Linked DNA regions of Homo sapiens: all the other regions are reported to be linked to region 1. The links are microRNA targets in miRTarBase. Many come from high-throughput screens and were not tested one by one. Region 1 holds a microRNA gene; each other region holds the end of a gene's coding sequence.

Region 1 (7,896 bases):
AAATAAAACAATCCATGTAAGAAGCAAGGATACAATAAAAAGCACACTTCAGTGCCTGTAGCACAATACCAGTGTGGTACAGCGATAAGAGCACAGATCCTGGAGCCAGGCTGGCCTGCATTCAATTCATCTGGATTCTGCTACTACTGACAGTGTTACCTCAGGCAGGTCATTTAACATCTCAGATTCTGCATCTGTAAATTGCTCTAGGGATTAGCAAAAATGTAAATCACCTAACACACAGTCTCTGGCACATACTGTGCACTTAACAAAAGGTTAATCCTTATTGTTATTGTTGTTGTTGTAAATGCCAAGGAAATTAATTGGCCTGAAGACCAGAAACAAATTTGTATTGTTGAGAAGAAACATGGATTAATTGTTAAGAAATTTTTGTTTATAATGTATCATCTTACCAAATGCAGAGGAGGTACATTTAATCCATGGTTTCACCAGAAAATAACTGCTTATCAAAACTTGTCACAGGTTAAAGTTATGTCCTTGTAGAACATGTGCCTTTCTAGAGGGCTAGCAAGGAAAGTTTTCAATTGGGTAATTTTAGATCCTAAGCAGGGTATTTTGTGTATAGTAGTTGCTCAGCAAGCAGTAAATGGAGTGGAATTCAGGTTGTTTGCCTGGGCTCTCCTCTGGTTACACTTTTGATGCTGAATGCCCTTCACTGTGTGGTGGCCTGTGATCACTACAGCCCTTATTGAGAGAAAACACTCAAGAAGATAAAGATCAACCAGCCTTTTCTAAGTTTTATCTTTAGGAATTAGAGATAGGGAGTTCTGTAAATAAAAGGCTCCTGCTTTCTGTGTCAGCTGTTGTAGTTTAACTAACACATTGGACCTTTTGTGGCTAAGTTAATATTTATTGATATTTATTAATATTATTAGTTGACTGTGTGTTGGGCACTATGCTATTAAATACTTTACTACAGGAATTATCTTCTTTAATATGACAACTCTGTGCTGTAGGCATTATTATTCCTTCTAGTAGGTGATGATCCCTGGACTCACCCAAGATCACATGAATAGTAAATTCAACTGGGAGCTTGAACTTGATTCTCTTTGATGTCAAAAACTATGCTATTCAACACTTTGCTACTTTACTTCCCCATTCCTTCCAATCAACAAGATTTTTTTTAAGTTTGTGTTTCAGTGTGTCTCATTTCTTGCTATGTATTTCATGGATTTGATTTAAATCCTTTTCTTTAATATTGATGCTATGAGAAGCCTGGTTTTAAATAAGTATATAAAACATTCTTGAAAAGTGTGTTTTTCCTCAACTGAATTTTGGTTCTAAAATTTTATTATTGAATTGTTATATATATATACACTTACCACACCTCCCCTGAATTTTTTGTTTTGTTTTGTTTTGTTTTTTGAGATGGAGTTTTGCTCTTGTTGTCCAGGCTGGAGTGCAATCCCACAATCGTGGCTCACTGCAACCTCCACCTCCCAGGTTCAAACGATTCTCCTGCCTCAGCCTCCTGAGTAGCTGGGATTAGAGGCATGCGCCACCATGCCCAGCTAATTTTTTTGTATTTTTAGTAGAGATGGGGTTTCTCCATGTTGGTCAGGCTGGTCTCGAACTCCCGACTTCAGGTGATCCGCCTGCCTTGGCATCCCAAAGTGCTGGGATTACAGGCGTGAGCCCCTGCGCCTGGCCCCTATTTGAGTTTTTAAGTTTTCGAAGGCAGGGATTGTGTTTTACTCCTCTTTACAGTCCTTGCCCATAGTAGGTGGATAGTAAATATTGAATTGCATGTCTCCATTGATCATATTAGAAAACAAACAAAAATGATCATTTTCTATTAATCTGTTAATTTTTTTCTGCAAATGTATAAGCAATTCAGTATCAACCCTTAGATCTGCTGCTATTTGTCTAGGTTCCTAGGCACAGAGATATAGCACCTGTGCCTTCAGTCTCTGTCAGTTGTGGTGTGTCATAGTATTTAAGAACTGATGTTTCCAATGATATATATGTATAAGTATACATATAATAATATAATTATATACATATAATAATATAATATAATATACATATGGATATAGTTCTGCCCAGAAGAAGCCACTCTTACCCACTTACATTTCCATTTGCTTTCTTTTTAAAAAAATCTCTTTATAGGCCAGGCGCGGTGGCTCACGCCTGTAATCCCAGCACTTTGGGAGGCCAAGGCGGGTGAATCACAAGGTCAGGAGTTCGAGACCAGCCTGGCCAACATGGTGAAACCCCGTCTCTACTAAAAATACAAAAAATTAGCTGGGCATGGTGGTGGCCGCCTGTAATCCCAGCTATGTGGGAGGATGAGGCAGGAGAGTTGCTTGAACCCGAGAGGCGGAGGTTGCAGGGAGCCGAGATCGCGCCACTGCACTCCAGCCTGGGTGACAGAGCGAGACTCTGTCTCAAAAAAAAATAAAATAAAACTCTTTATAATTACTTGTCTTTTCCTTTTAATTTCCCTTACTTATAAAGTGTTGGTAGAAACTTTAAAAAATTGTTTATTTTGTAATTGACAAATAAAAATTGTATATATTTACAGTGTACATCATGTTTTGAAATACATATACATTGTGGAATGGCTAAACCCACCAATTAATATATGCATTCCCTCACATACTTTATTTTTATTGTGGTGATAATTCTTAAAATTTGCTCTCAGCAATTTTCAAGTATACGATACATTGTTTTTGACTGTAGTCACCATGCTGTACGATAGATCTCTTGAAATTATTCCTCCTGCCTACACATTTGCTTTCTTAATGTCATCTCACCTTGGACTCACCCTGGGAGTGGCTGTGCACATGAACATCGTCTATTGTGTGCCAGCCAAAACAACAAACAGTTGGAAGTAAAAACAAAAACCAAAACCTCGTTAGATTCCCAGCTCCACCACTCACTAGCTTTGTGACCTAAGCACATCACTTACCTTCTCAGACTGTTGTCAAGAAGGGAAAAATTGATGCAGGTGTATGTGAGGAGCGCTTAGCACATGGTAGACGTTCAGTAAATTCATGGAACTCTGAAAAAAAAAAAAAAACCCTTATTTTTTATAAACCCACCGCCTGGCCTTAAGAAGTTTCATGATTCTACTATGAATAAATTTAAAGAAAACTGAAACACAGATATGGGATTTAAAAAACAAAAAGGGGAAAAGGCAGTCACAGGCCTTTTGGGAAGTATCTGTACCTGAGTGATGTTAGAAAAAACTTCAGTATTCTGGAATTCAAAAAGCATTCTTCAAGCAGTTCAAGCTGCACTGATTTGAGGAGCATTTTTGCTTGCATAAATAAAACACTAAAAATGTTATTGAGCTATTCCACGGAGGAGATACATACCTGGTAACATAAGACTATGTTTTCATGCAGTTTTTATTCAAGGCAAAACATAAACCAATGAAAGGAAAACAGAAAGTGATAAGTAACGTGGCTATATTTTCCATGAACATATGGTAGGTGTTTAAAATGAGGTATGTCAGCTATTAATTCCCCAGGTGCTTGCCTTAGCCTTGATAATAAGGTTTTCTATGGAGGGATTTCCCATCTCTTGATATTTTGATCTTTGGGAAAATATGAGACCGACTCTTCTCTCTTGGGCACGTGTTAGCAGGAATATTTAAAAAGCATTTTGCACTGATTGAAATGCAAAGGGTTTCAAGAACAATTCTGATGAGTGTGTCTATCCTAAACTCAGTTATTTTCTCACCCCAAAACGCCAGAGAAACCAGAGACTAGGGAAAGACTGTTTTGTTCTCAACTGAACATGGCACGCAGATTTAACAGTAGGACCTGGTTCCTCATGCTGGCTGGTTCCTCATGCCATATCCATCTGATACTGGATTTAGCTTACAGAGGACGTTAACCCATGTAAGTCAAAGCCACAGACTTAAACATCCAGAAAGTATAAGGTGGGCTGAGGGGCAGCCCTGTAAGGTAAGATCTTATTTCAACGTGATTAAATGCCTTCTATTAGGAAAATTGCTTTTTTGCTTCTGTTTTTCATATGTAAATGTTAACGTGGTATGTCATAGCTCTCAAATAATTTGGGAGAATATGGAAAATCATTGAAATGTTGATAAACCAAATTATTTAATTTTTGGAATATGAACAATTTGATTTTTGGAGTGTGAACAAAAATATTACTAATGAAATCAGTGGACTTAATGGTCTTACTGGGGTCAACTTCTGTGGCTCGATGGAAAGAAAAAATAAACGAACTATGTAGGAGCTTGAAATATGAACACTCAGAATTCTGAAATTCATTTTTTGAATTTCACTATGATGTTTGGTGTTTTAAAACACAAAATTATAGATTCAATATCAGCCCTGATATAGAATGTTCTGAAATAATGAAGAGCTGGCATTTCACAATACAGGATAACCAGACAAGAATTTATCTGTACCTGAAAGTTTGGTGACACTCTTCGAATTTCTAGGAAATGGAAATGTGACTGATTTTTATTGAGAGTTTTCAAGGTCAAAGATAGGAACTGCTCTCAAGGCATGATAGCTAGAAAAATCGAGGGGGAAATTGATGTGAAATATTGCTGAATTAAGTGTTTAGAAATACGTAAGTACAAGTTCTGGCAGGTATCCATAGACAACAAGGCATATATCATCTTTAAATATCATAAGGTTAATTTTGGAAATCAGTGGATTTGTATATCTCACGAACATTTCAAGTGGAATACTGGCTTTTTTTTTTAAATAAGAAGAAAACAATGTCATTAGTTTTTAGGGTTTTTTTAATTAAAAGTTCAGTTACAGTTTTTTAGTGTTAATATTTTAACTTCTTATTTGAACGTCATTACTCCAGTCATCCTCTTTATTTTTTCAACTCTTATTATGTGCAAAGCACCAAACCTGATTCTTCTAATTACAACTTGTATTTTACCATGGCAATTCGGATAATTTAAAATAGATGAACGCTTTGGGTTTATTCACTCATGTTTTCTTTTTTAAACCAATGTTTTATAACACCTACTAAGTTCCAGGCTCTTTATTCTATAGTTTTATGCCTACTCTCCTTTTCTCCATTAGAAGAATGCAGATCTAAGCTTTAAAGAGGCAGCAGCATCCAAATAAGAGTCAGTGCGCTTAACCAAAGAACAGCTTTTAACTGTTTCCTAGTGAAACATTTTGAAATAAAGGTCTTTCTACCGGGGCAATAGGTGTTGTGCCAGTGTCACACCAGAGAGTAGAAGCCTTTGAAGAGCCCTTTTGTGACTTGGCCACTCTGCAAAACTCTGTGTCTGAATCCTCAAGCTAAGTGGAATCTTGATTATGTTTTCTATTTGTAAATGCTCTACAGCTTATCCAGCATGATTCTATCATTTTCTTACTTAATCCTCCCAAATACCTGTAAAGCAGGTATTATTGTCCTATTTTATAGATGAGCAAACTGAGGCTTAGAGAGATTAAGTGACTTTAGTTTCCGATGGCCAAGTGGAAACTAAAGCTTAGTCTTTCTTCCACAGCTGTGTTGGTGTATATCGACAAGTAAAAGATGTCTATGCAAACACAGACTAATTCTAGTACATACTTAAGAGATTTAAAAGATAGTTGTTCAGTCAGCCCATACAAAGAAATTGTTTCTTAGTCCTAAGCAATAGAGGCAGTTTCAACAGATGTGTAGACTTTTGATATGAGAAATTGGTTTCAAAATCAGGAGTCGGGGCTTTACTGCTTTTCATGCACAGAAAAAAAAAAGTGTATCTCTATGAATTGTCACAACTGATTCCTCTAAATTCTGCTTTAGAAAAAAAGAATTTGTTATACACTTGAATCTTAAACTGTAGTAAAATTAAGGTCTTTTGGAAACCAGGAGAGGTGTTGGTCCCTGGGGTTCCTTTGAATCATATCAGAGTACACTATTGAAAGAAGGAGAAAACAGGACAAAAAATATTTTAAAAGGCATAAGACACATAAATGAATTTTTAAAAATAGTTTCTATTGGCCAGGTGCGGTGGCTCACACCTGTAATCCCAGCACTTTGGGAGGCCAAGGTGGGCGGATCACTTGAGGTCAGGAGTTCGAGACCAGATCATTGGGTACCTTGAAGGCCATGATAAACATTTTCGTCTTCAGCCTGAAAATAATGGAAAGCCACTGAAGCATGCCAAGCAGTAGAGTGACAAAATCACACGGGTCCTTTGCAGGGATCACTCTGGCTCCATTCTGGAGAACAGAAGGAGGACTAATGTTAATGCTCACCAGCTAGTCAGGATGTTTGTTTTTTTAAACTCAGTCCTTTTAGTTACACTTTATCTCTTAAGGTTCATTCTCTTCCTACTACATCTTATCATAACTTACTTTTGTGCTACTCAGGCAGAAGTTTTTCTTTTTTAAAACTTTTTATTGACAGCATAACGGAACATCATGAAAAAATTTTGCCACCTGAAAAATACCATATTCTCATTTCTTCAATAAAGTTAGTTTTACATTTATAGTTTCTGTTACTATATTGTTCTCCTATTGATATTGCAATGTCTTTATCATATTCCATTGAGATGTATTAAAATTTAGTTACGTGTTGCTCCACACTTGGACATTTAGGTAAGAAGTTTTAACCGAGGATGACAGGGATCAGTGAAATGCTGTCCAAATATATTCTTTTCCATTTTGCAGCAATAGAAACTAAGTTGGGAGAGCATATTCTGCCACTTTCAACCCCAATTATGTGAAAATCTCCCTTTATGAAGAATGTAAAGTCTCTGAGTATTTGTATTAAGAGTAATGCATGTTGCTTAGGCTGTTAAGGAAATATTGATTTCTGACCCTTAACTGAAATACTTAGCTTTCATTTTTCTTCTTTTTACATGAATTGTGTATATTGTGTTCCCCTCAGGGAAAACTTAAAAGCATTTTGTGTTATGAAGGCTCCATTCTAGGATCTTATTGCTTTTGAGATGAATAAATGGAATGCTTGCTATCACTGGAACAGCCCTTTTTTTTTTTTTTTTTTTTTTTTTTTAATGTAACAAGGCATACAAGTAATACAGGGCTGAATTTGGCCCCAGAACTTCTGAAGTTCCAAGCCAGTTTCTTACGGCCAAATTTAGCTTCCAGCTTTCAGTTGATGAGGAGCTTTGGCATATAGGCAATCTAATTTTTGTTCAGTAAAAACCTCCTTGGGTGTTTTAAATATAACTTTAAAATTTGTATTACCAGGTGATGCTTAAGCATTTCTTAGACATTGACTCTAAATAATTGCTCAGAAAACAATGTGCCTTAAAGGTGTTTTATACCAGCCTTCGAGGTATTAGAATGAGATGAGTTGGCGCCAAAACATTTCAATATGCTATAAGGAGATGAAATATGGCCAAACAGGTTTTTATGTTCTGATTATTCCTTTTTCCTGTTACTAGCCAGAGGCAGGTAAATCGACTTTACATCCCCCACCCCCCCAAGCCCACCACCACAGCAATTTTATTTTTATCAACCCCTTAGGAAATTTCAGAGGGTTTTTTTTTTCCTATTCTTTGAACACATACAATGGGAAAATTAAAACTTCTAAAAGTTTCTTATCTATTAATCTGTTGATGAGATGTTGCTTTAAACACATTTTATATTACTAATTAATTTAATTATACATACTGCAGTTGTATTAACACATTTTCTGTTCTCTGCTCTAACGTGACACAGTGCCCTCCCGCAGCCACCTTAACCTAAAGCTTTAATTGCTTTCTCCTTAGCCTCAGCTCATGTTTGATTTATCTGATTTCTTTGTATAAAGATTCTCTAGTTTACGATGTGTACACAGTCATTAAATTGGTGTTGATGTTTATGCAGTGAACTTGCCAACTGGTTACAGCGGACATCCCTTTATGAATTTATGATGGGGCAATAAAGACAAGTGTCAGAAACCTCTTGTCTGGGAGGGGAATCACTTTCC
Region 2 (7,896 bases), not on the chromosome of region 1:
GTCTTTCACTAGCATAAACGATGCTGCCACAAACATCTTTATACGTGTCCCAGTGCATGTGAGCTTCTCTCGGGTAGAAGGGTGGAATCGTTGGGTCATAGGGCATGTGTATCTTTATCTTCATTCTCTGCCGTCATATTTGGGGGAAAGCCTTTCTTCACTTTTTCTAATTTTAACTTCTGTGCTTTTGTTCCTGTTTTCCTATCACTGTGTTCATCAGTCTTCTTCCTGTGCTCCTCTAACACTCTCAGTACTGATTCTAGCTTCTAGTCCTGCATATCCCCTTCCTTCTATAGTTAAGAATGGTTTCTTCTAAGGAATAGTATTTTTTTCATATATTACTCTAGTAGGAAATGTATTTTGAGAGTTCTTCTCTTTTAAATATACTGACAATGTAAAGCACATATTTGATTGATGGGGAGGGCCAGGGGACAGACACTCTAGGATGGGAATTAAGACTGTGGGCTTTGAGTCAGACCAAATCCACAAGCTGCCACTTGCTACATATCCTTGGGCAAGTTATTTAACTTGTGTTTTAGTTTCCTTATCTGAAAAAAAAATGGGGATAATAATTATACCCATTTATAGGGTTACAAGTGGGTATAGGAGTGTGCACTAAATGAAACAATCTACAACTTTGATTATAAGAGGTTTATACATTTGGTCTTCAGGCAGGAAGAGGAAAGACAGGCAGCATTGAGAATGCCTTCAGGTTGTGTAGTGAGGATACCTACTATGAGTTTCCATCTAGTGTTTATACTAAGTCTAAACTCTGTCCACTCCTCTTTGTGGAGTGGCTGGCTAGCGCAGGCATGTGAGATGCTGCCTGTGGCCACAGAATACACAGTGAAATGAATTGGCCCATTTAGGAATGAAACCCACAATCCTGGCTTCATGCACTACTCAAATGAGTCCAGTGGCCAAAATGACATAAAAAGGGAGAATATAAATGGGCTTAGAAATGCTGTCAACGTAAACAGGAAGGCAAGAGGACACAACAGGATAACTCAAATTAACAAGCTGCTCTAAACAGCATCCTCTCTTTGTGCAATTTATTGTACAGGAGAGTTGACTGGAACAGAAACTATTCCTAATCATTATAATTTTCCTTATCCTGCAGGCTTTCCGTGTATAACTTCAGACTCTGTCACTTACACTTCTTGGTTTTAGGAGAGTTTTCCAAAGCCAGATACTTAATTACAGGTGCAGCACTCCAAGGCCAATACCTCATTACCTAATTAGGGAGTTGGGAAGTGTTTATCATAATCACGCTCAAGATCTTAATGTTCGTTTTAACTTGTCTTCCTCTTTGTGAAGACATTGATTTTTGGACTCTGAGTCTCTTACTCCCATATAAAACTGTCTAAATCCAAAACGGCTTTTGAGGAAGCAGCATTTCCAACTTGACATTAACGGTTGGGCTGAATGTTGCCTCTTATAGAGGCAACAATGCCCACTGGATTTTAACTTCTCAGTTCCTGAACCACTAATAAGTTATTTCAGTTACATTTAATAAATCCTCCTTATGCTTCTTTTCAAATAATTCTTGGAAAATTGTGTTTGAATATATTGCAGAAGATGGGGGAAAGGTGAAAGAGAAATTAACAGTCATCCTGAATGATTATCAAGTGACGTGGTATAACAATATTTGCTAACTCCATGTCAACATAGCAAGGCCAGATGGCTTAGTTTTGTTTCAGTAACATATATCATGTGGTAATAGATTGATAAAGGGTTGATTTGTATAATTACTTTTAGACCTTGACTTCAGAAGTAAGCAAGGTTGTTATCAAGAAAAAAACAACCCAGCTCTTAACATATTCATTTGAATTGATAACTGGCACAAACCCATGAAGGGGATACAAGGTGGCAGGACTATTTGCAGGAGCAGATACCAGCTTCTAATAAAAGCATACCACATTCCTTAAGTTCCTGTAAATTGGAAACTAGGGTCCCTAATAGCATCAGTGGCAGCATAAATTCAATGCTTAGATGACAGCTGAAACCCCAATGTTGGATTTATACACCCAAATATCAAGCTAACTTTCAGGGCTGGTATTTTCACACTGATGTGAGAATGACAAGTTTTATTGGCATCAAAAACAGAGTAGCCTGGGGAAGAATCTCATCAAGTGAGAGCAAAGAATCTAGAGTCTTCATTATACTTCAATGAAATGTTTGAATCTTCTTTTGTATCCTACTACTAACAGACAGCAACATGGCTTGTTTTGAACTTTACCTATTTTATTTGTCTGCTCATAAGCAAGAGAGCACAATAGCCCAACAAGCAAGTACGAGTTGGCTCTTGGCTCTAAAGACCAGCAGCTGCAGCTTCCTCTCTAAAGGTGATCACATCTTAAACAATGTAGCAGAGCTGGGGGCAGCAGTCAGGAAATGGGAGGGTGGGCTTTGTGTGAGCAAAGGCTTTGGTTTGTTTAAGAGTTCAGGATATAGATTTGAAGATTATGGTCTCTTTGAACAGTGGCTACAGGCCACATATGAAATAATCTCCGTAATTTTCATGTGTACCTGGCGAGACAAAGTCATGAATTTCAAACTTGATTTTTCCCCACAGACCTACTTGCTCCTTTTGAAAAGTGCTGGGACTGGGAGGTCCAGGCAACATTCATGCTTTTGTTGTTTTTTTTTTAATTACCAGTTGATTCTGATTTGTGAAGACCTTTGCAGACTGCAGCTGTTAGTGGAAAGGGAACAGGAATGAGCTGAACTTTTATGTCCATGTATCGAATATAGATAATAACTCTTGCCCTCCATACTTAACAGCTAACAGCAACTGTTTAATAAAACATTAGGTATTATGTGCCAGGCACTGTCCTAAGAGCTTTACATGTAATAACCACAAAAATCCTTTTTTTTTTTTTTTTTTAGACGGAGTCTCGCTCTGTCATCAGGCTGGAGTGCAGTGGCACAATCTCGGCTCACTGCAACCACTTGACTCCCTGGTTCAAGCGATTCTCCTGCCTCAGCCTCCCGAGTGGCTGGGATTACAGGCGTGAACCACCAAGCCCAGCTAATTTTTGTATTTTTAGTAGAGATGGGGTTTCACCATGTTGGCCAGGGTGGTCTCAATTGCCTGACCTTGTGATCTGCCCGCCTCGGCCTCCCAAAGTGCTGGGATTACAGGCATAAGCCACTGTGTCCGGCCCCACATAATTCCATTTTAAGGTAGGAAACTCATTCACAGAAGGGTTAAGTAACTTGTCCACGGACACAGTTAGGGCTTGGATTTAAAGCTAGACAGTGTGGCACTAGGGATCATGTTTTCAACCATTATTTATAACCTTATAAGGAATATAATAAAAACATGTATCCAAAAAGTATTTTACTTTGAGAAGTTAAAAGTTCTAAGCAGCTGCTGAATTAAGTTCCTGGAGGAAAAGTAGGCTTCTAGACAGTACTTGCTACATAATAGCTGATTACAAACAACTTTACTCAAAGGACTTGAAATCTGATCTTTGCTGTTTCTCTCAAATGCTGACTCTGGCCTACTGAAGTATTAAAGTGACTCCTTTGGCAACTGAAAATAAAGAAAGGAACTCTTTGCAGACCAGGTGCCTCACACACAGGGCTTGGCACCCAGGTGATATGTAAATGTTGGCTGACTTAAACGCCTTCCAATCAAAGGCATTTTGAAATGTGCTATTCATATTTCACAAAATGGCTTGAATATAAACTATTCAGAATGTCAAAACAAAGGGGCATGTGGCAAGTTAAGGAAATTAAAGAGAAATGGAGTACAAATGGAATATTAAACCTTTTACATTCAAAGTGAAGAACCTGGTTGCATACCCTAAAAATCCTCTTTCCTGGCTTAGCAAGGGATGAACTTTGGGGATCAAGTAAGCCTATTCTTTAATAACACAATATCTCTCATTTGTGATGTATATGCTTGCTGCAGGCATACCAATATAAACAAGCTGCTTAATATGCTCAGGTGATTTCTTTTTTAAAGGCTGAATTTATCTTATATCATTTCTTAACAACCCCTACACTTTTTAGCTTGCACTCAAACACAGCTCAGAAATAAAACAGGTTTTGCTACCACTTTAGGGAACAAAATGGTTAACTTATAACAAGCTGGGGTCGTATTCCAGGCATCAAAGCATTAAACTTAACTCAAGTCCAACAAAATGTGTTCAGCCTGCCTATAACTTCCAACCAATATCTAAAGAACTGATGCATAATCCAATTTTTTTACCATAATCCCTGAGAATTTTATGAGTAATGGGTTAATTGGTAATGTGGCATGATCCAAACCTAGGGCAGGCAAAGAATTCCCTGTGAAGACCTGTGTGAGAAGCAATGAGATCTACTGCAAGAGCTCAACTGGGCCTACATTTAGCCCTTTATGGAATTATGAAGCAGAAACCACTTGTGTTGAATTGCCATAGGGAGGAAATTAACTCAGTTTTTCTAGTACAATGTTTTCACTCAGTCTGTCTTCTGACACACATTTGTAAAATGTTGCCCACACTATCTTAGTTGTGGAATTTATTTTTCTCTGTTAGACTACTTGGCCTTTGCTTTAAGAGCAATGTAAAAGGAACTAGGGACTAGGAAAAGCAGAAAAACAGACTTAAGAGCAGTAGTGTGTTGGCTATGACAGGCTCTCAAAAAGCATTTGTTGAACCCACACACTACCTATGTTATGAACATGGCCATAGGCTAATTTCAAGATGGGAGTTAAAGCTGTTTTAAGCTGTTAGGGCTGGGGATGGGGATAATGGGCTGACCCTCAACACAAGAGTAGCTACACATGGTCTTGATCCAACATCAGTTAAATGTGCAGTCCAGATGAAGAGACATTTGAAGACACTAATCAGTCATCCTCACAAAATTTAATTAAGGGCCCGTGTTGAAACAGCCAAAAGCAAACTCTAATACGGGATCCTAGCAATAGTGCTTGGAATGTATTCAAATGGAAAAGTTTGTGCTGGAAATACTTGTTTAGAAAAAGAACTACATCACTCCACCCTGCTTTATCAAGTAATCCAAGCCATCTTAAATGCTCAAAGTCTGATCCAAGCAAGATGTTTTTTATTAAAAGCTCTTTCAGCTTGAAATAGATTATAACTTTGGGAATAAACATTTTAATGAACAAGTAGAAGGGATTCTTGACTACTATAGTTCTTTTTTGTAGACTGCTTCTAGGTAATGCAAAAAGCTCAGAAAAGGACATCAGATAAGGTAAAAGGCTTTATTATTCAGGATCAGCTCAAAGTCTGACATGGACACAGGCAGGGATAATTATCTCATTACAGTTGACCTTTGGCACCCATTTAAAAGTACTAGCTTTCCAAGTGAGACATGTTATACCCAGTAGACTCGGTATAATTTCTGACAGCCAAATGTATCCCAATTTCACTCAGTAGGGCTGCCAGGAGATGGGTAGGGATACAAACAAAATCATCTACTTTATCAATCTTTTTTTTTTCATGGATTTTTTTCCCCCATTGGCTTTCAAAGCAAGTGAGATAAACAGCGTTACTGGCAGATATTGGTCATAAATAACATCTTCCCAAAGCCCAACAGTCAAAAAACAAACACCAAATATAAGCAGATTAGGCAGATTTCCTAAATATTCAGTTAAGGCTATGGTGTGCTTGGTTTTGACCAGAGCAATTCTATGGCTTCCTTTTATTTTTCTCCCTGGATAAAACTATGCTTACTTGATCCATGCAATTTCAGTTGTTACAGCTTTAACTTATAAGATCAAAGGAATTAAAAAGTTGTCAGAATAGATTTTCAAATAATGACAAAAACTGACATAAAGTCTACACAGTCCTCAGGGATATGGATAAAACAAATGAAGTTTCATGACTGGAAGGGGGCTCCCTTCTAAGTAAATAGTACATAGAAAGTATGTAAAGCCTCTTTCCATGAGGTTACAAAGGTGAAAAATATAAAACAATGGTTCAAGATCACTGATACATAATTGTTGAATAAGGGGAGGGATGTTTAAGATATTTTGCACATTATTAACTTAGAGTCAGTCTATACACTCTCTGTATTAAATATCTAGAGAAAATTCTATTACTTTTTGGCTCAGGGCTATCTATACTAAAAGGCTATTGCTTTTTATGTACATGAAAAGAAACTCAAGATTTATGTTTCTGGTTCTGGATTTTCAGTTAAGAGCTATATTCTGTTACAAAAATATCAATAAGAAATCATCACTTTTTTCTTAAAATCTGATGACTTATTTTTTTTAAAACATTGCAGCCCCTAAAGAACTGATGACTGCACCTGAATTCAAACCCCAAATTGATTTCATAAAACATCTTCCTCTAGTAAATGGCAAAAATCATAACCTCCTGTAGAAAGTGATGTTGGGTTGGCTGACATAGCAGATTGCTTGGTGAAAACATGGGGACCTGAAATCTCATACGGGAGATATATTTGAGAGAAAAAAGACAAACACAGCTTTCTGTTGTTGTTCTCCTAGTTTCTCCGAAGAGTTGACATTTATCACTGCATTTAAAATAAAGATGACTTTAACTCAAGAGACTGCATTTTAACACTGAACTGATATAAATGTACTTATCTGAGCATCACATTTTTACACATACTTAAAAAAAACCCCACAAAAGCATAGTGAAAAGATTATGTATTTCAAATAAAATTATACATGTTGGAGGCAGAACAGAACCAGGGGTCTTCAGCAGAGGATTTCTCAGTCAGCCTTCACAGGCCTCATGCTGTGGCTGGCAGATACTTTCCACTGAGCATAGAAAGTTTCAGGATAACAAGAAACTTGTTTTTTGCCTCCATGAACTGGGATGTCATTATTATAGAGAAGATGAATAATTTAAAAAGTGAAGACTATTCATTCAAAATGCTAGAGTGACAAATTTACTTTATGAAATTTAAACACAGCATTCATCCTCGGGAAGCTGCATATACATTATGGTAGTAGAACCAGATTAGGTACATTTCAGCGTTGAAAAGATTTTGTCTAAAAATGAAAAGGCAGCTTTCTTAAAGACCAGAGTTATAGAGTCACTCTTGTATTTTTCATCTTGTTTTAGTGGACCAAAGCTCAGCTTGTTTTAGTGGACCAAAGCTCAGTAACTCACTCAGATTAGAATCTATAATTCTGTTGAGTGTTCAGGACCACAGAAGTCCTCCTGGGACTTTCTATGGAAGTATGTGCAGATTTTCCTCATGGAGCTGGGCGTGATGGTGACCTAGAAGAAGAAAGTTTAGATTTCAGAGATTTCCTTGAAGTTCAACTGTTACTAAGTTATTACTAAGGCATACCTTAAATTAGGCTGCCAGAAATTTCATTGTTTAGCCTGCTTTCAGCTCCAAATACTTTCAATGGCAATGTCTCTTTTGGCTGATTTGTACTGACTATAGTAAAAACTTAACAGATGATATGTAGGGAAAGAAGGCATAGACTTCTTATGTGAATAGAAAACATTTACTAGCTAAGTCTCCTAATAAGAAACAAATAAGTTACAATTACTATCCTTTTTGAAATAAATGAATAAATCAGCCCCCCCAATTTATAAACAAGATAGGTATTCAAATGGAAGATGTTACTCTCTTCTGAAGGTTGACATTATCATCATATAAAGGTAAAAAATTTTTAAGAAATGTTAGCTTCAAATAAATTACAAGACCAGCACACTGTTTCTACTTTTTAAAGATTTTAAGATTTATGTATCAGTGAAAATAGTTTTTCATTGAAACTACTTTTCTGCTAACACATAGCTGAGACCAGCTCCCTTGAAAAAAAAAATAGAAATTTTGGCTAGGGATAAAGAGCAGTCATAATTTTGAGAGAAGGAAAGATTCCTTATAACTGTCTTTTTTCTCCACTTTCTACAGCAAGGTCTTGATTGCAGTTTGTGTACTAAGTTGTCTTTAAAA
Region 3 (7,896 bases), not on the chromosome of region 1:
TGACTGGTTGTGTAAAACGCCCAATCAGAGGCTGAAGTTACAAAGTTATACTCCTAGGCAAATGAAGACTTGGCCTAAGACCAGTCTGATTGGTTGTGGGAGGGGATCAATTAGCGATACTTTCAATTTTTCACCTGCCATGCAGAAAAGGGGCTGGGGGTGGGGAGGTTGCAAAGGGAGTAGCCTCTGGTCCTTTTGTTACTTGAGCGTGGAAAGTTGGGGTTTTCCTTTTGACTTAGTTCTAGGAAGTCAGCCTGAATTGGCCTTAGGAAGCCAATTCCATGCCTCCAGACCCTATCTCCTGCTTCCCTCCCCTTCAGAGATGTCCCTGTCCTCCTCACCAGAACCTGTGAATATCTTATTCTGCAAGGTAAAAGAGGCTTTGCAGATGTTATTAAGAATCACAAAATGGGAGATTATTCTAGATTATCTGGATGGGCGTAATCCCAAGTGTCCTTACAAGGAGGCAGGGAGGGTCAGAGAGGAGGTGTGACAATAGAAGCAGCCAGAATGATGCAGCCACAAGCCAAGGAAAATGGGCAGCCTCTAGAAGCGGAAAAGGGGCAAGGAATGGGCAGCACCCTATAGCACCTCTGGAAGCAATTCGCTTCTGCCGACAACCTTTGGCTCGTGTCCAGGATGACAGAATGATATATTTGTGTTGTTTTAAGCCACTGAGGTTGTGGTAATTTGTTAAGAGTGGCCATAGGAAACCAATACAGACTTCAACAGAGCAGCAGTGAGCTTCTCCTCACAGCCTCCTGTGGCTTTTTGACTATGTAGCTTTGATGAAGAAGTATACTGATGGACAATTTACTGCCTCCCATCAACCAGAGTAGTAGAGTGGTCAAGACAGCACCCTCTGGATGAGATGGCCTGGGATGGAGTACTTACTGTTTATTTCACCCTTTTGTGTCTCAGTTGTCTTGTCTATCAAATGAGGGATGATAAAGAACATACAGTCCTTGGAATAACATCTGCTATGTGATGAGCACACGGGAAATGCCAGCTATTACAGCTGCTACTGCTTCATCACAGCACTTAGAACCAGACCAGATACCCCACTGCCCAGTCCCACATGGCCCAATGCCCAAGGCTGACTCTTAGGACTATGCCATCTCCTCCCAATCCCTGGTGCCAGGATGCCTTGCTGGTAGCTGGAAAGTGGCCATGGCGGGAATATTTACATCATAGGTATCAGCAAACACTCCATATCAAGGCTTTTTAATTTTTTGCCCCAGAGGGCTGGTTTGCCAGCACACCACAACTCCAGACCGCCTTTTACCCTGATTGCATCTTCACTCCTTATACCATCAAGGTCTTAAGCAAATAGCAGCCCATGTTGGCAAAATCAGACTAGCCATTCTCTCATCACTTAAAAAGAAAAAAAAAACTTTTATTCTGGTGTAAGGTGCTATGACTATGAGTATCCTCACTCCCAGCTTTCCCGTGTCCTTGGCACGTCAGACCTGGTAGCCACAAGGACTACACTGGAGTCTAGAACAAACTCTTTCCCCACCCCAAGGATTCTAACCACACACTTGGCCCCAACACTCTACAAGTCCTGTCTTCCTGCATGTGGCTGTCTCAAACCTGAAGGATCACTCGCCTTGAGGATTCTTTGGTCATAACCTCAGAAGAGAAAAAACAGTAACATTCACAAGAGAGACAAAGTGACCTTACAAGTCACTGCATCAGGACCTTACAAGTCTCAATCTTAAAGGTCCAGTAAAAGAAACTGCTGATTCTTGGGATATGATTCTCCAAGGCCTCTCACATTTTTATACATCTGGTAAGAATAGACACCAATTGCCAGGTTCCAGACTTATATTTTCAAGGATGTTTATCTAGTGAACAGTCTTGGATGACAGAGATAGTGTCTGTCTCTGGAGCAAAAGTCAGGCAGGCTTACTGCCCATTATCAAATACCAGGGTCCCCTAAGCATGGGGGTTCCTCTTGTAATGCAGCCCACTGCGTGTGCAGGTCTCACCTGGCCCTCTTCTTGGGGCCTGGGGCTCAGGGAACCAGTGTAAATGCTGATAATCTGGCCACTGCTATTGCTATAATAAACTGTCCTTTGTCTCTGACCTATGAGTCTCATAACTTCTGCCAGGATCCATGAACCCATGTGGTGTGCTCACTTTATTAGCCTGCAAGTAGGGTAAAATCTCATACCCTTCACAGGTTTGCTACCTATGTGGTACTTTTAAGAATCCAGAGCTGTAAAAGAAGACAAAGTCCAGGTAGCAAAAAACAGTTTGCTGACTCCACACACAGAAAAGACCCAGGAAATATAATGTTCAAGGAGCACTTTAATAGTCAACAAATTGATGCAGTTTTGTCACAATACTTTGCATAATTTTATAGTAACAGTAAAATTCTGAATCACTTTATAGTAAAAGAAAAGACACAGAGGAAAATAATTTCCCTGTACAATGAAATTTTCATACACTATATGAAGATTTCCCACATCTGTCAAGTTTTGGCTCAGAATAAAAGATAGCTAATATATTTCACTCTTTTTTCTGTTACTTTTTTTTTTTTTTTTGAGACAGTGTTTCGCTCTGTTGCCCAGGTCGGAGTGCAATGGCACCATCTCGGCTCACTGCAACCTCTGCCTCCCAGGTTCAAGCGATTCTCCTGCCTCAACCTCTCAGGTAGCTGGGATTACAGGCGTGCGCCACCAAACCCAGCTAATTTTGTATTTTTAGTAGAGACAGTGTTTCACCATGTTGGTCAGGCTGGTCTCTAACTCCTGACCTTAAGTGATCCACCCGCCTCAGCCTCTCAAAGTGCTGGGATTACAGGCGTGAGCCACGGCGCCTGGGATTACAGGCATGAGCCACTGTGCCTGGCCTTTTCTATTACCTTTAAAAGTTACTTCACATAGTAAAGAAATTAGGACTGATTCTTGGCATAAAGGAGGGTACAAAAAAAAATTGTGCCAGGTACAGTGGCTAATGGCCATAATCCCAACACTTTGGGAGGCGGAAGTGGGCAGATCACTTGAGCCCAGGAGTTCCAGACCATCCTGGGCAACATGGTGAAACTCGTCTCTATTAAAAATACAAAAATTAGCCAGGCGTAGCCAGTCATACACGCCTGTGGTCCCGGCTACTCGGGAGGCTGAGGTGGGAGGATCACTTGAGCCCAGTAGGTGGAGGCTGCAGTGAGCTGAGATCGCGCCACTGCACTCCAGCCTGGGCAACAGAGTGAGGCCCTGTCTCAAAAAAAAAAAGAAAAGAAAAGAAAATTTGGTTTCCTGGCAGATAGAGTTTTAACAAGCGCATCAAGCAGTAATAATTTGTGGTCTTGTGCTCAATTCTCACACATGATCTTTGCAAGCGTCCCAGCAGCCATCACAGCTCTACTTTCACATGCATGGGACACAGCACAGAGCAGCAGCCTTGAAAGGACTGCAAAGAGGTGTGAATTCCAAACATTCTCTTAAGTCCTAACATTTCTGTTCTTCATTTTGTGTGACAGAAGCCCATGGAAACAAGGCGATGACGGCGCTTGAGGGTGACCAGACCTCCTCAATCATTCCATCAGCCACCCAGGACTCAACAGCAGAACCTCAGAGGACTCAGCTGAAAGAGGTTTTCACTCGAGCACTAACCACAGAGAAATGGGAAGTGCCATCCTGCTGTCATACGCAGCCGATGGCTGGGTAGGACTAAATGCCCTTCTGTGGTGAGATGAACCAAGACGGCAGATGGGGGAATAACATCAGTGAGAGAGAGATTACGAATGGATCCTTGTATTGCAGATCAAACTGGGTTGTCTCTTCTCAAACCACCCAGGCAGTTTCTGAATGTCCCAAGATAGGGGTAGGAGAAAAGAAAAAAAAGACAAAACAGGAGACGGTGGGTAAGAAAACCTAAAAGGCACAATGAGGCAAAGGCCTAAGATGGAGGCTGGCTTTGGGATCTGAAATCCGGCCACAATCCTCCTTGTTTTACCTCAAGTCCAAGAATTGTCAAAAAGAAAACCCAGAAGGGCTATTCATTCTAAATTTTAAAATCTTTTCTTCCTGGCCTACCAAGTCCTTGTGTTTTCTTTCTAGGCGCCCATAAATACAACCCCATTACAGTTCTATTTGGCTAATAATTTACAGAACATTTAAAATACCGGGTAGGTGAACATCTCTTCATGGCTTTTGTGTAAGGGCCTGAAGCGAAGAGAAAAACAACTGATTGGAGATTCCTATCTGGCGCCTTCTCCAGGGAAACTGACAACCAGAGAAATCTGTTGCTAGGATTTCTAGGACATCTGGAAATTCCCTTTTTGTTCTTTCTCAACAATATAAAATGGTATATTCGCAAACCTATCTGAATCACCTCAATCTAGGCCACTTTGAAAATTTCATTTAAAAATGTAATCACAGATTTTTAAACTAATTACCCAATTTGCAAACAAATCCCAGCTACTTCTGGTCTTGAACATGGAGCAAAGGTGTGTCAGTAAGGCCAACATTCTTAGGTTGACAGAGACAGGTTAACACATTGGCTGGCTTCATTTACCCCCCTGCCACGCCCCACACTGAGCTGGATGATTTGATGGGAAGAGAGGGTCCCCACCTCAGGGTTCACTTCCCCAGCCCCAGCGTTCATGGGTTTTCAGGAGGCTCAGCCTGTGAAAAAGAACCAATGATGATGCACACCCTGGCTGAAGTGACATCTGGCCAAAGGATTCCAACAGAATGAATTCCATCAACATGGAAAAGATAATCCATGGCACCAATTCTGTGCTGCTTACAGGCAATGGTTACCAAATGAGTCAAAACATGGCCTAGAAGTGGAGCCGGGCCCAATGAAAAGCCTGAGTTCACACGTGCTAGGGGCTCCACTGACCGGCCTCTGCAGCCCAGCACCCAGTCCTCTTGCTCTGGGTGCAAGGTGAGGAGGCAGAGTGCACACACCGGCTCCTGTGTCCCCGGCCTGGCTGGCAATGGTAAAATGGGCTGCCTTTCTTTTGCAGCTTCTTCTAATCGAAATACCAAAGGGTACTGACCTCTGGCCTCAGGGATGTGACTTGCAGTGCAAATTTTACCTCTTCAGTGCAGAGAGTGGTCTTGAAATCTTGCCAGTGTGTGGCCCTCCCTCAGCTCCTGCCACCCTGGGGAGCCAGGATGCTGAAATGCATAAGGCAAAAGCACTGAATCGGATCTATTCCCCACTGACCTTTAGTTACGATCACTCTGCCCTGACCAGCTGGAGTTGGGCCTGTGTGAAGCCAGTGATTTCCAACACACTGAAGAAGGTATCTGAGTCCAGTGTGAAAGCCAAATTCCTCCTGAATCTGTGATTTGGTGAAGCTCTGTGAGGTATTTTTTGTGTGTGGAAGACTGAAAGTGAAGGGAAACAACTAAAAAAATTAAACAGACAAAAGCAGTGTACCTTATCCTGGTTTCTTCAAACATAATGCCTGTGCCAAGAATTGGGCAGGAGAGAAACCAACGAAATGAATATAATAACTTATCCTGAGGCGCTCCCTCCCACGCTGGCTTAGAGATCTCGCACACACAAAAACTCTCCTTGTTTATAAGAAGCTGTCTCTCAGTATGCGGGCAGCTCTTCCCAAAAGCCCGTCATTAAATAAGCTAAAAACAGGTGCAAGCGATGTACCTGCATGGGTTCCTGAGACTTGCCTTGCAGAAGCGGCCTTCCAAGTCACCAACTCTTGAGAACTCCAGAGAAAAACAGCGCAAACACGTGGGCAAAAAAAAAAATCCTGGTGCCTGCACCAAGTTCTTCTCCCAAAGTATGTTTTACTCACATAGGGCAAATTTCTGTCGCGGACTCAGCTGCCTTTAGGAGAGTAAGGATTTGAAGGGGTACAGAGAATGCTGTCAGTGTCTAAGGAGGAAACCCTGCCTCACCTATTTCAAATCTTGACTCTGGTTTTCTAAGCAAATTTATCTTAGGATACAAAGCACACATTAGAGCTTCCTTCTTGCCTTAATGCAATTAAATTTGCAGCCATTCTGCAGAAGAACTGAAGCTCTCAGGTGAAAAGAAGCCTTAAATCATGCCATGATATATGTCGGGGGAGGGAACATTTGGGTATAGGTATTTTCCTGAAGGAAGAGAAAGGGTTGAATGTATTGGCAGCTGAGCTGTCCCTTCAAGGGGATATTGTGAAACAAGCTCAATAAAAACCTCTCCCTCTGAAGCATGAAATGTTCCCAGAGGGGACAGGAGGATTCCTTTGGTGCTATGATGCAACCTCAGGTCATGTGCTCGCACATGCTGGAGCATTTTCCTGAGTAACCTGAGGAAAATGTGGCAACAGAGAAAAGCACTTGGAAAATACACGCAGGAGGCAGGTAGTGTTCACCTCCCTGGTTAAAGGAAAGGCACCCCCCACATGCTCACAGGAACTCTCCCTCCTGCCCCTCCTCTTCCCCTACCCCACTTCCACCCCAGGGGCCACCGGAAGCAGCAGCAGCAACCCCGGCTCCTCATCCCCTGCCGTGATGTCTGCAAGTGGCTCTGGCTAGAAGTGGTGCTGGTGAAGGGCTGTAGATGAGGGTCTCTTCTCCAGCCTCTTCACGTGGCAGGAGTGACAGAACAGGTGGTCCTCCAGCGGATAACAGCGGTGGCCATCTTCATCATTGAGCTCCAGACCACAGTCCTGTGGGGAGGCAGACATGTCCAGGGGAAGCAAAACAAAACAGACTGCAAGACTGACCTGAAGGCCACAGTCCCCAAAATCAGCAGAGGGTGCTGTGTGTTTCTGTATAGGCAGGAAATGCCAGTGCAGAAACACAGCTCCTGCCCCGTGGAGGCCTGTCCAACACAGGAGACACTGCCACAAGGCACTTGCTGTGAACCACTTAAAATGTGCTGTCAGTGTAAATGCAGATTCCGAAGACTTAGGACAAAAAGAGGATGTAAAAATATCTCATGGGAAAAAGGAATGAGATCATGTCCTTTGCAGGGACATGGATGAAGCTGGAAGCCATCATTCTCAGCAAACTAACAAAGGAACAGAAAACTAAACACCACATGTTCTCACTCATAAGTGGGAGTTGAACAATGAGAACACATGGACACAGGGAGGGGAACAACACACACCAGGGCCTGTTGGGAGGTGGGGGTGAGGGGAGGGAACTTAGAGGATGGGACAATAGGTGCAGCAAACCACCCTGGCACACGTACAACATATATCTATGTAATAAATCTTCACACGTATCCCTTTTTTTTTTTTAGAAGAAATAAAATAAATTGTGGAGTTACAAAAAAAATCTCATGGGTAACTTTTTTATATTGATTACATGTTCAAAAGATAACATTTGGATTTTTTTTTCTTTTTTGAGACAGTCTCCCTCTGTTTTCTAGGCTGGAGTGCAGTGGTGCGATCTCAGCTCACTGCAACATCCACCTCCCCCGTTCAAGGAATTCTCCTGTCTCAGCCTCCCAAGTAGCTGGGATTATGCACGCGCCAACACATCTGGCTAATTTTTGTATTTTTAGTAGAGACAGGGTTTCACCATGTTGGCCAGGCTGGTCTTGAACTCCTGACCTCAAGTGATCTGCCCTCCCAAAGTGCTGGGATTACAGGCATGAGCCACCACGCCCAGCAGGATTTTTTACTTTTTTAAGACAGGGTCTTGCTGTGTCACCCAGAGTAGAGTGCAGTGACACGATCCTAGCTTCCTAAGTAGCTGAGACTATAGGCACAGCATGCCTGGCTAATTTTTGTATTTTTAGTAGAGACAGGGTCTCACTGTGTTGTCCATGCTGTTCTCAAACTCCTGGGCTCATGTGATCCCCCTGCCTCGGCCTTCCAAAGTGCTAAGATTACAGGCATGGGCCCATGCCTGGCTGGATATTTTGAACCGAATAAAATAATTAATCTCACCGGTTTCTTTTAACGTTTTAATTGTGACT
Region 4 (7,896 bases), not on the chromosome of region 1:
CAACGTGGTGAAACCCTGTCTCTACTAAAAATACAAAAATTAGCCGGGTGTGGTGGCATGCGCCTGTAATCCCAGCTACTCGGGAGGCTGAAGCATGAGAATCGCTTGAACCTGGTAAGTAGAGGTTGGAGTGAGTCAAGATCGTGCCACTGCACTCCAGCCTGTGCAACAAGAGCGAAACTCTATCTCAAAAAAAAAAAAAAAGAATTTACTCTCATTAAAACCAAACAAATGTAAACCCAACCAATACTTTTTAAAAATAATATTTCATAGACATCTTGTGGTCTGAGTGATAACATTGAATATTTCCAGTTAGAGGGCTATGGGTTGGTTATCTAGCGTGGTATTAATGAATTTAAAGTTATAGATACTATGTTAGTGTTGAACAAGAAAAAATTTTCTAGCTTTTAACCTGAGCCAATCACGTCAAAAATGATTTGTTAGATACCAAAGTACTTGTTCCTACTATTATTTTTGTATATGAAGAACTGGCTTTGGATTTAACTGAAAACTTAGGAAAACAATCTAATCGCTGTTGTCTATATCATTGATTTAATTCATCAAAGTTACTCAAATGATTGATATTTTTACTTGCTAATTATTTTAGGAGTGATTTTGTGAAATTTATTTTTAATACAGTCCTAGAATTGAATTGAAATATGGTTTGGAAGTTTGAGGGTTTTTTACTGTGTCTATCCTTGTGTGTCTGTTTCCTTTAAAGATTCATGATACAATCACTGTGTACAATGTGTCCTTTAATATTGGTTCCTGTAATAATGTGCCTTCAAATTATTTCTTGAGTTTTGTGACTTAAATATGCAGTTCACTGACTCACGCCAATGTTGTTTGCTTTTTACCTTAATTCTTTTTACTGTGCTCTCTCAGTTTTATTTTTTGGAAGAATGGTACTCAGTGCTTTGATTTGATTAGTAAGATTTTTGAAACACATGTAATTTATTTCAGAAATGTGATTGTTTTAACTCTGACTTTTTTAGTGCAGTCATTGGAGAAATCGATGAAGAAACAGATTCTGCGCTTGATTTGGGGAATATTCGAGCAGAACCTTTAAATTCTGTAGCACACTGAGGAAAAACTACATACTTGGACATCTGTAAATCTTTGTACAGAAACTGATTATTCTGAGGATGATATATGGAGTTTTTATGAGTGTGTCACTGGATTTTGACTCCTTATTGATTCATTGTAATATGTAAATTAAAATATTTCTACATTTTATTGAAAAAAAAACCTTTTTTTTTGCCTAAATATAAGTTTGGTAGCTTGGTTTCTTTTTTTTATTAAATAGTGTGAAAATATAATGGGCATTTTGAAAACTTTTAGAAAAAAGTAGTACTTTTTGATACTTTAGTATTTATGGAAACTAGTGGAAAAGAGAAATTAGTGTGCTATATAAATCAGGCATTCAAGTAACAGTAATACAGGATATATGTGTTTTCTTTCCCTGATGTTTAGGAAAATCACAGGAGGGTAAATCTTTGCTGGAGTTATCTGAATCATTGGCATTTATCCGATTCCACTGGTGGTAGTTTGCTAGTGCTTCTAAAAGTTGCTCCCTAGCACTGAGAGGTGTGGGTAGGTAAAAATGTGTTTGCTTGAGAAAAGCAAAAATGCTAACAAGGTTTTGATAGATTGGCCCAAAATTCTAACTTGAATATTAAGAATGACTAGGAATGGTAGAATTGACAGAGATGATTAGTAAAGTCTCTTGATGCCCAATTGGTTAGGTATGAAAGTAATATGAACACATTAATGTTGAATTTTACAGACAGTATATTTGAAAAAAATTGATTCCATGTAGTCTTCAATTTTTAATTTTTAAGAATTGGAGAATTTCTAATGTTAAAGTTAGTTTATAAATGTGAGTAAATAAACTCTAAGTTTGTATTGAAGTAGTGCTAGCTATTATTGTCAGCAATTTTCCATGATTCATTATCCATAAACCTGATTTCAGAAGACGTCAACTCAGTTTTTTAAATAATTGAAAGAAACAATGTAAGTAGTGTTTAGATATTCAGGCTAGTCCATAAAATTTCTGATCAACTCATGTATAGGCCCAAGTGTGTGTCTTTGTGATGAGAAGAACATAGAAAAATATTTACATCCTTGTAATTGAAACAAATTTAAATAGTTTATTTGTTTTGTTTTTATGAAAGTGCTTAAAAATAGTAGTTGGCAAGCTTTTTCTATGAAGATCCAGATAGTCTTTTAGGCTTTGAAGGCCATGTGGTCTGTCACAGCTACTCACCTCTGCTATTGTGGCCTACAAATAACCATAGATAATACATAAATGAATAGTGGCTGTCTTCCAGTAAAACTTCATTTATAAAAATGGAGGTGGGGGTTGGATTGGGCTTGAAGGCATAGTTGCTGACCCTTGGCTTAATACAAGTTCAATAAGAAAAAATGAACAATTTGTATAAATTCTGGAATAGATCCTTATAGAGAGTTTAGAGGTGGGTTTCATTCATATTTTAAAATATTTTAAACTTCATACTTATTAAACATAATAGCTTTTTGGGGGAGGAAAATATCTTCACTCAAATCAGCCTTATAAGGGGAGAAGCACTATTCTCTAGAATTATTTGGTTGATGTTAAGGGCTGTCTCTGGGAGAATTAGAGAAGTTAGCTAGTATTGGCTATTCATAAGTACTTGACTTGTAGTATAATGTTTTATAATCAATTTATTAATAAAATGATGGAAAGTGGGTAAGGCAAACAGGCAAATTTAGGGACTGTGAATGAAATATTGTAGTATATGGCATTTTGAATTGGTAAAGTAATTCCAAAAATTAAATAAGAATACACATTGTTCAGTTGCTAAGAAAAATGCATTCTAACAGTACAAATGAAGTCCAGAGTCAGATCTTTTCTCAAAATACTTGGCATATCAACACATTACACATAAACAAATAAAAACCAGTCCTGTCCCTCATGATAATGGGTTTCTAATGTGATGTATTCTTGCAATCTGAAACACCTTATAAAGCTGTATTTTCCTGATTGATGTTGGAAAAAGCATTCCCAAAATGTGAATTATTGTTTTTATGAATAGTTACAGAGGATGTGATGACAATATGCCAGATAATCTATGTAATTCTTTATTCCTGGATACAAGCACATGGTGGACTGTTTTCTCACAACCGATTAAAATTGGATTTATTTTTGCATGAGAATTGTAAGGGAGCCACAACCATGAGTAGTAACATAATTAATATACAGTGTCAATATTTTATATTTAATGAGACATTTATTCTATAATCAGTTCTTATTTATAAAGAGGCGCAAATCAATTTCAACCTGTAATTACCTCTGTGCTTTGTGACTCAGGCACAATCTAAACCCAGCTTAATGAATCAAAGAGATGTTTCTTGGCAAGATATTTTCATTAAAGTTATTTGGAAAGGGCAATTAACTGCAAAAGGGACTTTTTTTTTTTTAACTGACAAGATACTATCTAAACTAATAGTTTAAAATAACATTGCTTTTATGTCAAAGCACTTTGGTAACTTGGCCTCACATGCTGACAGTTTTGGCTAAATATTACAAATCTTGATCCCAGAAGAGCAAGAGAGAAAGTTTTACTAATATTTGCTTAAACATCCTGTTTAACAACTTTATAACATCCTTCGGAATTTTTAAGGTAATAATGTGAGATATAAGTATGATAAAAACAACTTTTAAATGGTATTTAATGCAAATACAGAATAACGATGTCAACATTTTCCTCAGCCGTGTAACCTGAGATTCATCATGGGAATGAGAAAGTAAAGGCCCTTTGTAATGGCATGTGAACCAGACAATTTAGTAGCCAGGGTTGTAAGGCAACTCTTAACTGACAATATAGTTAGTATATTCTGGGCCTTCATCTTCAAAATTAGTAGGTAGTATTTATTGAGTGCATATCATGTGCCAGGCCTGGTGCTGAGTGCTTACAATGATCATTTTATATATGGGAAAATTGAGGCTCAGCAGGGTCAAGTGACTTGTAAGAGGTAGCACTAGTAAGTAACAGTGCTCAAATTCAACTAGGTCTTTCAGCTTTTTATACAATACTGCCTGTTATCAGAAAGTATAGTCTTAAAATCTGCTATCAAGCATCTATCAGAAGCCTGATGAGAAATATTCAGATGATCTAACGCAGTTCCCAAACCTGCATTGTGGGCCGTTTTCATTACAATTACCTAAGGTGCTTTAAAAATTTTCTTGGGCCCTACTCGTTGTGGTTCAGCAGCTGTGTAATGGAGCAAAAAGGAATAGTCACTAAACAGCGAAGGAAAGTGGTGGAATTATTAAAAGACCTAGCACTTACCTGCTGGGATGAGTCTCTAACCCCACAGAATTGATTTCAAACACAGGATCTTATTCAAGATAAGGATAATAACAGCTATCTTCTTGGGTTGTAAAAAGTAGCATTAGACTGCATTTTAAACATTTGGTATGATTTTGAGGACATAACCGTAAACAGCTATTTAATACTATTCCAGGTAGTCAAAGGCCAATGTATAAAAGTTAAAAATATAGGTCTTGTCAGCTTTTTAAGCGTCTGTCCCACTGACTACCATATCTCTACAAGAGAATAGATGAGGAATTGAGGTTATGTGGGAAGTACGTGTAAGTTTACAGTATTAAGAAATGTACAATAAAATTTGTTTCTATGTCAGCGAATATTCTTGACTCAAGGAGTTTGAAAGTGTAAACTCAAAGGTCTTTCACATGTAAAGAGGAACCTCTCCATTCTGTACTTGTATAGTCATTACCTCATATAGATTTAATTTTATTAAATTAAATTTTACTTATTTTGGGTTTAAAAAAACTTGGGCTGTGAATCTCAGTTTTAAGTCATGGGCAAATTTGATAAAAATTCCTTTCTGTCTACATGTAATACTGAAAAAAATGTTGATAAGGTAAAGCTATCTCCATTTAGATTGATACCCATTAAATAGCATAGTGCTCCCATTAAACTAGCGACAAATTCATTTAATTGTGAGATATCTAGTACTTATGCTCCATCCTGTTTATAGGGATTATTGATGTGAGATTTGGTCAGATGCTTTGATGTGATCTTCATTCCTCTGTATAGTGGGAAACCATGAGACGTGCTTAGTCTTCATAAATCGATGCTGCCTCCTAGTGGCCATTGCTTTCTTTTCTACCTGTCCACAAACTTCAAAAAAATAGATTTTGGAATTTTGTCAGGGACACTTATCAAGCCATTAATACATGCCAGGCAGTATGCTCAAAGCTGTGGATAGGCCAGGGAACAGTATTCTTGTGCTTGTGAAGCTTCTATCTGTCTGTATCTACCTCAACCAAATCATCTTGACTCAGATTTACTGTCGAAGGTCGTGTTATTTCATCAGATTCTTTCAGTATTCTGGGATATAATTTATGGGTTCTGGATTCATTCAAAACAACTAGAAACAGTCTTTTTAAAATAAATATAATTCAAGTCAATTATTTTCCCCATCTATTTTTTTTCTTTTAAGATTGCTAAGTCTGTAGGTTGCATAATTCTAAGGATAAAGGCGAAATAGGACTTCACCAGGAGAATTTCTTTCATTAGTTAACAGTATGCCATCTCCTACTTACTGGCATCATCTGGGGAATGAAGGAGCTGAGAATTGTTCTTCCAGATACCTTTCCGACCTCTTCTTGGTTTTGGCATTAAGTTTTTTTTTAACTCAATTTTTGTGTTAGTTTTTTGTTATGCCTTTTCATTTCCTTCTTTTTTTAATGTTTCTTTTTTTTTAAGTCCTTTAATTTTTATTTATTTATTTATTTATTTATTTATTTATTTATTTATTTATTTTTGAGACACTTCTTGCTCTTTCGCCAGGCTGGAGTGCAGTGGTGCAATCTTGGCTCACTACAACCTCCGCATCCTGGGTTCAAGCGATTCCCCTGCCTTAGCCTCCCGAGTAGCTGGGACTACAGGCACGCGCCACCACACCTGGCTAATTTTTTTGTTTTAGTAGAGACGGGGTTTCACCATGTTGGCCAGGATGGTCTTGATCTCCTGACCTCGTGATCTGCCCACTTCGGCGTCCCAAAGTGCTGGAATTACAGGCATGAACCACCACGCCCAGCCTAAGTCCTTTTATTTTACAGAGTATTACTTGTTAGAAATGGCACAGATCAAGCATTGCTACAACTGGTATCAAATTCCCATCAATGTCCCTACAAGGATATGATACGCTTTCTCTCTTCTCTTTAGGGTAATGTTCAATTACACTGCATATATTTTGCTATTATGTAGGTTTTTTTTTTTTTTCCACATATACTGGCTTTACAAATGCCATATAATTAGTATGGTACCAAATTGTTATTACATTTGAAATACGTTAAAAAGAATCCAGGAGTCAGGGTGGGTGGGGAGACAACTCCAGGGACACAATACATTGTGTCTTGTATTAAAAACTAGTGTGTGTTGGGGTGGGGAACAGGCAGGAAACTAATATGTTTCTGTTTGATATATGAAAATATGCACAAGCTATCATGTTTCATCTCATATCAACAAAATGATTATAATAAATCATACTCTAGAAAACTCATTAACTGATACAAGTTGCCAGAAAATGCTGCACTATGGCTTATTTCACATTTTAAAATAAATGCCCTGAAAGTGATCACAATGATAGTTAAAAGTTAAATTTTTTATTTTAAAATTTAAATTTTTATTTTAAAAAATAGCTCTCTGAATCTGACTTGGATAAGCTTTATTTTAATTGTGATTCTGCTAATTACAGAGACACTTCAATTCACACTCATAGGAGGTATGATTTTTAAAAGGAAATTGTTGATTAGGGTCTTGGGCTAGTCCAGTGTAGCATGGCAGTGAAAGGCACAGACTCTGGAGTCATACTTAGTTTGCAGAGCTTAGCATATTAATCTTACCATGTCTTAGTTGCTATGAAAATGAGTACCTGCTTCCTTGTACTGTCAAGATTAAGATAAGCAGTTAGCACTCCCTAGAACATACTAATTTGTCAATATTAATGATAGCTAACAATTATCCTGATATTGAATGATGGACTCCAAATTATTTATTGTGGCCTAGGAAAAGTACTAAGAAGTAATTGATAGCATTCCCTGATAATTTTGGTGAAAAGAAAAACTATGAAAATTCTGGACAGGACTGGAAATTTATTGTAAATGAAAGTATGCTTCCCTGGTGCAAAGGTAATGTGATGTTTTTAATCACATATTTTAAAATTAAAAATTTGATCAAATTTTTAAAAGTAACACGAGGCAGAGAAAGTACAGAAAGGAGCAACCAGAGTCAAAGTGATTAAGTTATAAAAAGGTTAGATTTCTTTGGTGTGAAAAGATAAATGAGAAATGAGAATATGCCAGAGATCTGAAATGAAGAATGGATAAGAGCTTGCATATTTAATTTTGTATATTAAAACCAAATATTCTATGAAGATTGGAAGGATAATTTTAGGTCAAATGAAATTCTACATTAAAGAAAGAAGAATAAACCTTAACAACTCATTAGTAATCCTTCATTTCCTGAGTATTTACTGCATGACAGTAACAGAGATGACATGCCCGGTAAACTGGTGTTTGAAGGCAATATATAAAAGCTTCCCATGCATGGCAAAGATGCATTTTCCTCTATGCATAGCAATATGGGAGAGATTGGAGGAGAATCTTCATGGAAATGGATGACTTGTGCTTGACCCTAAGGATAGTAAGGATTTCCATAGATGGTTAGGAAAACTTCAAATTGGCAGACAGGAAGGCAAGAAGGAGTAAGATGTGGTTGAGTAATAAGGAGTAGACTGACCTCTCTGTACAGTAAAGGCTCAAATCCTTTTTATTGCAAAGAAAGGACCTGTCCTTCACCAGTTCCTGGAAGAAAATCTCTTGAG

What was found. The annotated mature microRNA hsa-miR-8063 reads UCAAAAUCAGGAGUCGGGGCUU and lies in region 1 at 5,661-5,682, shown strand. An mRNA with a match to its seed (bases 2 to 7 or 8) in the 3' UTR can be bound and repressed. Matches are read on the target gene's strand: a 7mer-m8 pairs with bases 2 to 8, a 7mer-A1 pairs with bases 2 to 7 and ends in A, and an 8mer does both.
Region 2: the mRNA of DTL is a reported target of hsa-miR-8063. Seed matches in the 3' UTR shown: 7mer-A1 at 6,852-6,858 and 7mer-m8 at 5,423-5,429.
Region 3: miRTarBase lists LIMD1 as a target of hsa-miR-8063. Seed matches in the 3' UTR shown: 7mer-m8 at 1,347-1,353.
Region 4: miRTarBase lists LSM8 as a target of hsa-miR-8063. Seed matches in the 3' UTR shown: 8mer at 1,179-1,186, 7mer-A1 at 1,325-1,331, 7mer-A1 at 2,783-2,789, 8mer at 4,462-4,469 and 7mer-m8 at 5,200-5,206.

Annotation. Positions count from the first base shown.
Region 1 is chr15:36,970,617-36,978,512 of GRCh38, reverse strand. It overlaps MIR8063 (microRNA 8063), which reads left to right and starts at 5,612; the gene lies at 5,612-5,692. All of the region lies in intron 8 of MEIS2 (Meis homeobox 2), which reads left to right.
Region 2 is chr1:212,102,154-212,110,049 of GRCh38, reverse strand. It overlaps DTL (denticleless E3 ubiquitin protein ligase adapter), which reads right to left. Exons shown (of 15, transcript NM_016448.4): 15 at 5,037-7,208. The coding sequence ends at 7,110. Among named protein-coding and RNA genes, the nearest start is that of MIR3122, 28 kb to the right of the region's middle.
Region 3 is chr3:45,675,663-45,683,558 of GRCh38, reverse strand. LIMD1 (LIM domain containing 1) reads right to left here. Exons shown (of 8, transcript NM_014240.3): 8 at 1-6,637. The coding sequence ends at 6,500. LIMD1-AS1 (LIMD1 antisense RNA 1) reads left to right here. Exons shown (of 3, transcript NR_033947.1): 2 at 3,488-4,513; 3 at 4,628-5,394. Among named protein-coding and RNA genes, the nearest start is that of LIMD1-AS1, 9.3 kb to the left of the region's middle.
Region 4 is chr7:118,190,917-118,198,812 of GRCh38, forward strand. LSM8 (LSM8 homolog, U6 small nuclear RNA associated) reads left to right here. Exons shown (of 4, transcript NM_016200.5): 4 at 996-7,896. The coding sequence ends at 1,086. Among named protein-coding and RNA genes, the nearest start is that of LSM8, 11 kb to the left of the region's middle. RefSeq lists a silencer at 1-157 and an enhancer at 5,112-5,171.